2 linked regions of the Homo sapiens genome follow. The protein of the gene in region 1 purifies or fractionates together with the protein of each later gene. This does not show direct contact. Each region holds a gene or a part of one and is shown on either strand. Other genes may lie near its edges.

Region 1 (3,983 bases):
TCTCTCTCTCAATCTTGTTTTCCATTTCCCAAGGCAGGGTGGGATCTGGGAAAAGAAGTCAAGTACTTGGGTTGTTACCTTGTCCAGCTTGTCTACTGAGGAGCAGATGGTACGGAACTTGCTGTCAGAAACACCACAGATAGCAAACATCCCATCTAGAATGCGTCGATCGTTTACCTGCAAGGAACCAATGCATAGTGAGGGGGGAATCTCTTTTCTTACATGACCTGCAATAGTCATGGTCACTTAGGCTACTGGTCCCTCTGCACAAGGATCTTCTCTTGTGAGAGGCCAGGCCCAACTTTGCCCTCCCAGCCTTGTCAGCTCTGACCTTGACCAGGAAGTCGCCTATCTGAAGTGAACTCAGGATCTCGCACATGATCTTCAGGCACTCTGCATCAGGGATCATGGGATCAAAGTTCCCAGCAATGTCAAAATCCTGCAGGGAGAGGGTTAGCCAGCGGTCTTCAGGGATTCACCTTTCTGAAGGGGGGACTCTGGGAGCTCTGTCCTCTAGGAAGGCCTGGTTGCACTCAAGCATAGAATTTCTCTTTCATTTTCTGATCATCAGCCCAGAGGTAAACCCCGGCATCTTTGGGCTTCTCACCAGTTTTGGTTTCCTTTCCATCTACTGGGCTATTCCTTCATTTTCTACTTCATCATCTTCTTAACTCCTCCTACTGGATGGGGTGATTATATGGCTTTAGTGCTTAGCCATTTTCCCTATTCATCCAGAAGCCCTGGCATCAGTCTGGATGATTTGATGTATCAAAGCTAATTTCCTTATTCTCTGCTGTGATCCTATCACTGTGGTTTAAAATAAAGAGCACTGGACCAAGAGTTCTAGTCCTGACTTTGCCTTTCTTATCCCTATGATCTCTTCATGGGCTGGGTATCAAGTTTACTCATATGTAAAATGAAGAGACTTTATTCTCCTCCCCCACCACAGGGATTTTGTGAAATCTGCATGAAAACACCATAGAAGAGGCTGGGTGCGGTGGCTCACGCCTGTAATCCCAGCACTTTGGGAGGCCGAGGCAGGCGGATCATGAGACCAGGAGTTCGAGACCAGCCTGGCCAACATGGTAAAACCCCGTCTCTACTAAAAATACAAAAAATTAGCCGGGCATAGTGGCAGGCGCCTGTAATCCCAGCTACTCAGGTGGCTGAGGCAGAAGAATCGTTTGAACCCAGGAGGCAGAGGTTGCAGTGAGCCAAGACTGCACCACTGCACTCCAGCTTGGGCAACAGAGCGAGACTCCGTCTCAAAAAAACAAAAAACAAACAAAAAAACCACCATAGAAACCCTAAGAGCATTATCTGGGTCATCCAATTTGCTCAGGACACCGTGAGTACTCAATAGATTCTGCTGGCTTGAGAGAGCCCCAAGTAACTCATCCTGCCCCACGGTTTCCCAACACTCACACACTGGTAGAATTCCCGGTATCGGCCACGGGTCATGGCTGGGTTATCCCGCCGATATACCTTTGCTATGTGGTAGCGTTTAATGTTGGTCAGTTTATTCATTGCCAAATACCGAGCAAAAGGAACCTGATGACAAAGAGTTAAGGAGAAAGCCCCTCCTATCACTGTCTGCAAGTTGATTATCATCACCAACAGAAGCTGGGGTCTAACCCCTCCCTATGTGGGTAAAACTGCCACCCATAAGATTAATAGCACTTACAAACATCAGAAAGCATCAGCTGTGCTACCACATGAGGTAGCTGAAGGCTCAAAAAAGATTAAGGCACCTTTCCCTTTTGTAGTGTTGACTGGACTTTTTTGAGCATGGCAAGGGGCTGGGCAGGTTGGCCACAGACCAGAAAAAGGCGACCAGAAAAAGGCCCCCATATGGGATTTCTAAGCAGATGATTCTCTGTGTAGCTTGGAGACAAGGGAAATGTGTTGCTAGTCCATTAAGAAGAATTTTGTTCACTGGACAGGGCAGGGGAGAGGTATTCTGGAGCCAGGGGATGACTGTAGAGTTGGAACTGGGCCCTGACATCAAGCTGAGGTCTCACTCAGGATTCAGAAGATTTCTAAGGATGTGTATGCTCTGTTTAGCCAAAGTTCCACTCCTGGTTTAGAGAAATAATTCCCCTAATCGCCAAAGGCCTCATATTTGATCCTACCTACTCTACCATTCTTAAACCTGAGCCAAGTGAGTGCCAATCCATCCAAAGTCTCAAGAGCCCAAGTTTAGAAAGATACAGTGAGGTCATAGCGAAGGGACAGGAGCTCCCCGCCCTGGTCCTTCAGGTCATAGATAAGCTTGGAGTCTTCCCCATACTTTCCCATCAGTGTTTCCTGGAGAAAACATAAATAAATGTGGTCATAATAATAAACATAACAATTTAAAAGGAAGTTTTGAAAACAAACATGACTGATTCCAACTTGTCTACATTTCCCTCTGCTCTTTATCCCAATTCTTAGGTGTCTGATGTAGTTATCATTAAAAGGAAACACCAATTTTGTGTTTTTTTCTATTTTGATTTTGTAACAGAGCTGAAGTATTTTTCTTACACATTTTCCTCTTAAAAATCTTTTTTTTCTTCAGACTTCTCAGCATGAAGTTTGTTTTTTTTTTTTGAAATGGAGTCTCGCTCTGTCACCAGGCTGGAGTGCAGTGGCGTGATCTCGGCTCACTGCAACCTCTGACTCCGGGGTTCAAGAGATTCTCCTGCCTCAGCCTCCAGAGTGGCTGCGACTACAGGCGGGTGCCACCATGCCCGGCTAAGTTTTGTATTTTTAGTAGAGACAGGGTTTCACCATGTTGGCCAGGATAGTCTCGATCTCTTGACCTCGTGATCTGCCCGCTTCAGCCTCCCAAAGTACTGGGATTACAAGTGCGAGCCACAGCGCCCGGCCTGAAGTGTTTTTAAAAGATGCATAAATTCCAGTGAGAAGAAGCTCTGTACTTACTTCCTCCCTCATGTTATACTGTTAGGTGTTTAGGTTATTCTAATTTAAAAAAAAATTTTTTTAGGCCAGGCATAGCGGCTCACGCCTGTAATCCCAGCACTTTGGGAGGCCAAGGCGGATGGATCACCTGAGGTCAGGAGTTCGTGACCAGCCTGGCCAACATGGTGAAACCCTGTCTCTACTAAAAATACAAAATTAGCTGGGGGAGCTGGTAGGCATCTAATCCCAGCTATTCGGAGGCTTAGGCAGGAGAATCGCTTGAACCCGGGAGGCAGAGGGTGCAGTGAGCAGAGATCGCACCATTGCACTCCAGCCTGGGTGACGAGAGTGAAACTCTGTCTCAAAAAAAAAAAAATTCCCCATAACATTTCAATATCTAATATTTAGGTATATAGCTCTTTTTTTTTTTAAAAAAAAGTATTTTTCTTGATGATAAACTACTAGGAATAGGTTATCAGACCAATAAACATAAATGTTTTTTGATGCCTGAGATTCGAATAATGTCAAAAGTAAAAACTGGGGAATGTCTTAAGGGCATTACAGCAGTCCTTGCCCTGTGATGTCTATCATCGGTAATAGCATATTTCACTTACCAGGTTGGCAAAGATTAAAAAGCCTGAAACTTCCCAGTATGCAGTATCAGAAACAGTAACACACTAGTGTTACGGGCTGAACTGTGTCCCCCTGGCCCCACCCTCCCCAATTCATTTGTTTAAGTCCTAACTCCCAGTAACCTCTGAACATGTCTACATTTGGTGATAGGGTCTTTAAAGAGATGATTAAGCTAACATGAGGTCTCCAAGTTGGGCTCTGATCCAATATGTTGTTGTAAGAAGAGAAAATTTAGATAGGGACAGAGGGAAGACGATGTAAAGACAAAGGGAGGCTGGGCGCGGTGGCTCATGCCTGTAATTCCAGCACTTTGGGAGGCTGGGGTGGGCGAATCACTGGAGGCCAGGAATTCAAGACCACCAACCTGGTCAACATGGTGAAACCTCGTCTCTACTAAAAATAGAAAAATTAGCCAGGTGTGGTGGCACACGTGTTGTAATCCCAGCTAC
Region 2 (3,983 bases), 400 kb from region 1:
ACATAAAGTCATAAAACAGTTTCAGTGTTAATTTTTAAAACTTCTCCATATTTCCACCCTCATCAGTGGTAAATAATGTGCCTGATGTAAAATGGAAAAAGTTGAAAATTTCCACTTGTACATTTTGAGCTTTTCAGAGGTACTATATACACTCTGGAAATAATAATAAAAGATACTAAGGCTTATACAGTGCTTTTTGTTTGAGGAACTCATATAAACACTAATGCATTGATCCTAACACAGTGCTTGATTGTGACTTTAAAAGGTCATGAGTTACTGCTGTTACAAAAAAAAAAAAAAAATGGAGGGGCGCTCCACTTTACAAATATAGTTTAAAAAATATCTAGATAAAAATTGAAACAGATAACTGAAAAAACAAAACTTATAGGGTATTTGTTTGTATGTTGACTTTTCTCTTAGCGTATGATATATTTTTATTCCTTTATTATTTTTTCTTTTACATATGAATCTACTTGAAGCCTGATTTTCTTTTCTTTTTTTTTTTTTTTTTAATGTTTTTAAGACAGGATCTTGCTCTGTTACCCAAGCTGGAGTGCAGTAGCACAATCATGGCTCACTACAGCTTTGATATCTCAGTCTCAATTGATCCTCCCACCTCAGCCTCCCTAGTAGCTGGGACTACAGGCGTGTGCCACTGTGCCTGACTAATATTTTAAATTTATTTTTTGTAGAGATGGGTCTCATCATGTTGCCTGGGCTAGTCTTGAACTCCCAGGCTCAAGCAGTCCTCCTGCCTCGGCCTCTCAGAGTGCTGGGATTACAGGTGTGAGCCACTGTGCCCAACTCCCGCAACCCCCCCGCTTTTTTTTTTAATGAGACAGGGTCTTGCTATGTTGCCCAGACTAGACTCAGACACCTGGGCTCAAACAATCCTCCCACCTCAGCCTCCTGAGTATCTGGGACTGTAGGCCCACACCACTGTTCCCTGCCTGATTCCTATATTAAATAAGAAAGCAGAATCTACTTTTAAGCCTTTATTCCTTCTCAGCCAAGAAGGTTTAAACTTCTGGTGGTTTCCTGAGCTTGACGTATTATGTTAATATGCATTTGTCCTTTTAATTTGCTCAGTTTAATATTTGTAGTATGTAGCTATTGATTTCGATGAATTCAATAGTCATGTGGCTTAATTTTCAACTTTCTTGTGTTTCATAGGTTTATTCTTCAGTCCAAGGAAGCAATTCACAGTCAGCTGTTAGAGAAGCAGAAAATAGCAGAAGAAAAAATTAAAGAACTAGAAGTAAGTTTTTATTGGCAATAGGAGTTAACTTTTGGGAGAAAGTAGTAATCTTATTGTGTCATATTAAATGAAAATGTATGCCTGCCTGCCAAAGTAATGTCATATTATTTTTATTTTCTATAATTACGTTGGAGCCGTGAAGCTGTCATATTCATATTCATAGCGCATATAAGACCAAAACAAAAAAAAAAGAATAGTCTCTTCTTTGGAACTGCAGAGAATTTTGATGAGATGGTTTTAACCTGAATGTATTTTGTTCATTGCCCTTGAATGTGTTTATTCTTTAAAAAAAACAAAACCATAAACAAAATGTAATGTATATTTAAACAACACTTGTGTAGTGGATTGTGGTGGATGGGCAGGAGAGTGGGTAATAATGATAAATTTTAGAGGATCTTGGTATAGGGTCTTTTTTACACATTGTAATTTCTTTAACCTAAATTAGGTTCTATATAAGGACAAAGTAGCAAGCTATAACCAATTAACTATCTGAAGGATGGTGCTCCAATGAGAACAATTTTTTCTTTTTAGCTAGGGAAAAAGATGATAGGTAACAGTAAGCAAATCTTTGGAAATATTACTTTATTATTTTTATTATTATAATTTATTTATACATTAAGACCTTTAGTGAGATATTCTTCTTGGGCTTTGGTGAAAGGCCCATCCTGTGTATAGTAAAAGTTAGACTGGACAAAAAGCTGGTTATTTCTTAGGGACCAAGATTTCCCAACATGTGGGTGGATACATTGACTTCATAGGTCATTTCATCTAATTTCTGTAAGTACTATTTGAGGCAGAGGATCAGAATCTAACTCAGCCCTCTGCTGAATTTGGGAGCTACAACTTGTAGCCTCCTGAGGATTTCTTAGGGGCACTGAATTGGCCTGGCCTGGGAGTATGCAGTATCTTAGGTTACTTAGGCTTATTTTTAACTACTGATAGTTGAAACAAACTTGATAATAGATTTGCAGCTTAGAAAAGTGTATTGTAAAAACAAGACAAAAAAGCAAAAAAACCAAGTAAAGAAAAAACAGCCTGTGATAACCAGATTGTTGTTGTGTCCTATTTTAACATTTTAATCAGCTCAACTGTTCTAAGAGGTTCAGTTTGATATCTGTGTTTTCACTCATAAGAAACAAAAGTATCTTTAAAAACCCAAACAGAATCATTTCATGTAGATAAAACAAAATGCATTTTTGCAACTGTAGGTAAATATATTTAAAATTATCCTAATGAATAATAAGTAGCAAGGTAATATGTATATAATTCTCTTTATGAAAACAAAAAACAAACATTTGTGTATGAATATTGAAGATGATATGTAAGGATATATATTAAATTGTTAATACTGTTTACCCTAAAGAAATTAGATGGGACGTAGGGATAAATGATTTTTTCTTTTTCTTTCTTTCTTTTCTTTTCTTTTCTTTTTTTGTTTTTTTTTTTTTTTTTTGAGACGGAGTTTCGCTCTTGTTGCCCAGGCTGAAGTGCAATGGTGTGATCTCGGCTCACTGCTACCTCCGCCTCCTGGCTTCAAGCGATTCTCCTGTCTCAGCTTCCCAAGTAGCTGGGATTACAGGCATGCGCCACCACGCCCTGCTAATTTTGTGTTTTTAGTAGAGATGGGATTTCTCCTTGTTGGTCAGGCTGGTCTCGAACTCCCGACCTCAGATGATCTGCCTGCCTCGGCCTCCCAAGTGCTGGGAATCATAGGCCACTGCGCCTGGCCTTGATTTTTTTCTTACAATCTCTGTAATAATAAATTATAACAAGTATACATTAACTTTTTTTGTTGTTAACTTTCATGATTAAAAAATTAGCAGAGTGGGCACAGTGGCAAATGCTTGTAGTCCCAGCTACGGGAGGCTGAAGCGGGAGGATTGCCTGAGGCATTCCAGCCTGCGCAACATAACAAGACCTTGTCTCTTTAGGGAAAAAAAAAAACACAAAAACCCCAATTATCAAGGTGAAATTGCCACAGGTGATGATTTTATCAATACCGTACTGCTGAGTTCTGGTGAATATTAAGAAATTTACTTTCTGCAAGTTTCCTTTTGTTGAGTGTCTCAAATACTGGTAGAATGTTTTATCTTTTAGGAAGTTCTTTTTTCTTTTTTAATTTTTCATTTTACATGTTACTTACATTATAAAAGCAATAGAAGTACACCATAAATAAAATATAAAACAAATGATTAAACAATGAAAATATTACTTTGTTTTTCCACCCTCGGTACATCCAAATGTCACCTCTACGGTTTCTGTATCATTCCAAACTTCTATATTTATATCAAGACATTCATACATGCATATATATACACAACCTTTTTTTAAAATAGGAATTATGCTATATATACTGTTTTCCATCATTTGACAGTTTATCTTGCTACTTTAGTAATATAACTCCAGTTTATATACAATTTCTTTTTTTGATTCCCATCATCATGGGCTCCTTACCATGAGCCTTATTTCAGCATTTAATATGTTCTCCAGTACTTCCCTAATCTGTGCTTTTAACAGTATCACCCAGTGTATACTCCCCTCTCTTCTCTGAAACAATCCTATACTTTTCCACTGCTACAACTTTATGGTTTTATTACTTCAGCACACCCCCACATGTGCACTTATGCACATATACACTGTTAATTGTGATGTTCAAATTTTGTGTGTATCTTACTGAATTATCATCTGCTTATTCATTTAGTTACTGAGAGATGTGATGAATCTT

What was found. The genes of interacting proteins can lie anywhere in the genome.
Region 2: the proteins of HARS1 (region 1) and PFDN1 fractionate together in Homo sapiens (co-fractionation; one large-scale study listed by BioGRID). This does not show direct contact.

Annotation. Positions count from the first base shown.
Region 1 is NC_000005.10:140,677,577-140,681,559, forward strand, and holds part of HARS1 (histidine--tRNA ligase, cytoplasmic), read right to left. Parts: intron 2,308-3,983; coding exon 2,212-2,307; intron 1,552-2,211; coding exon 1,426-1,551; intron 440-1,425; coding exon 332-439; intron 178-331; coding exon 79-177; intron 1-78. UniProt on the Homo sapiens protein: Catalyzes the ATP-dependent ligation of histidine to the 3'-end of its cognate tRNA, via the formation of an aminoacyl-adenylate intermediate (His-AMP). Plays a role in axon guidance.
Region 2 is NC_000005.10:140,278,724-140,282,706, reverse strand, and holds part of PFDN1 (prefoldin subunit 1), read left to right. Parts: intron 1-1,173; coding exon 1,174-1,258; intron 1,259-3,983. UniProt on the Homo sapiens protein: Binds specifically to cytosolic chaperonin (c-CPN) and transfers target proteins to it. Binds to nascent polypeptide chain and promotes folding in an environment in which there are many competing pathways for nonnative proteins.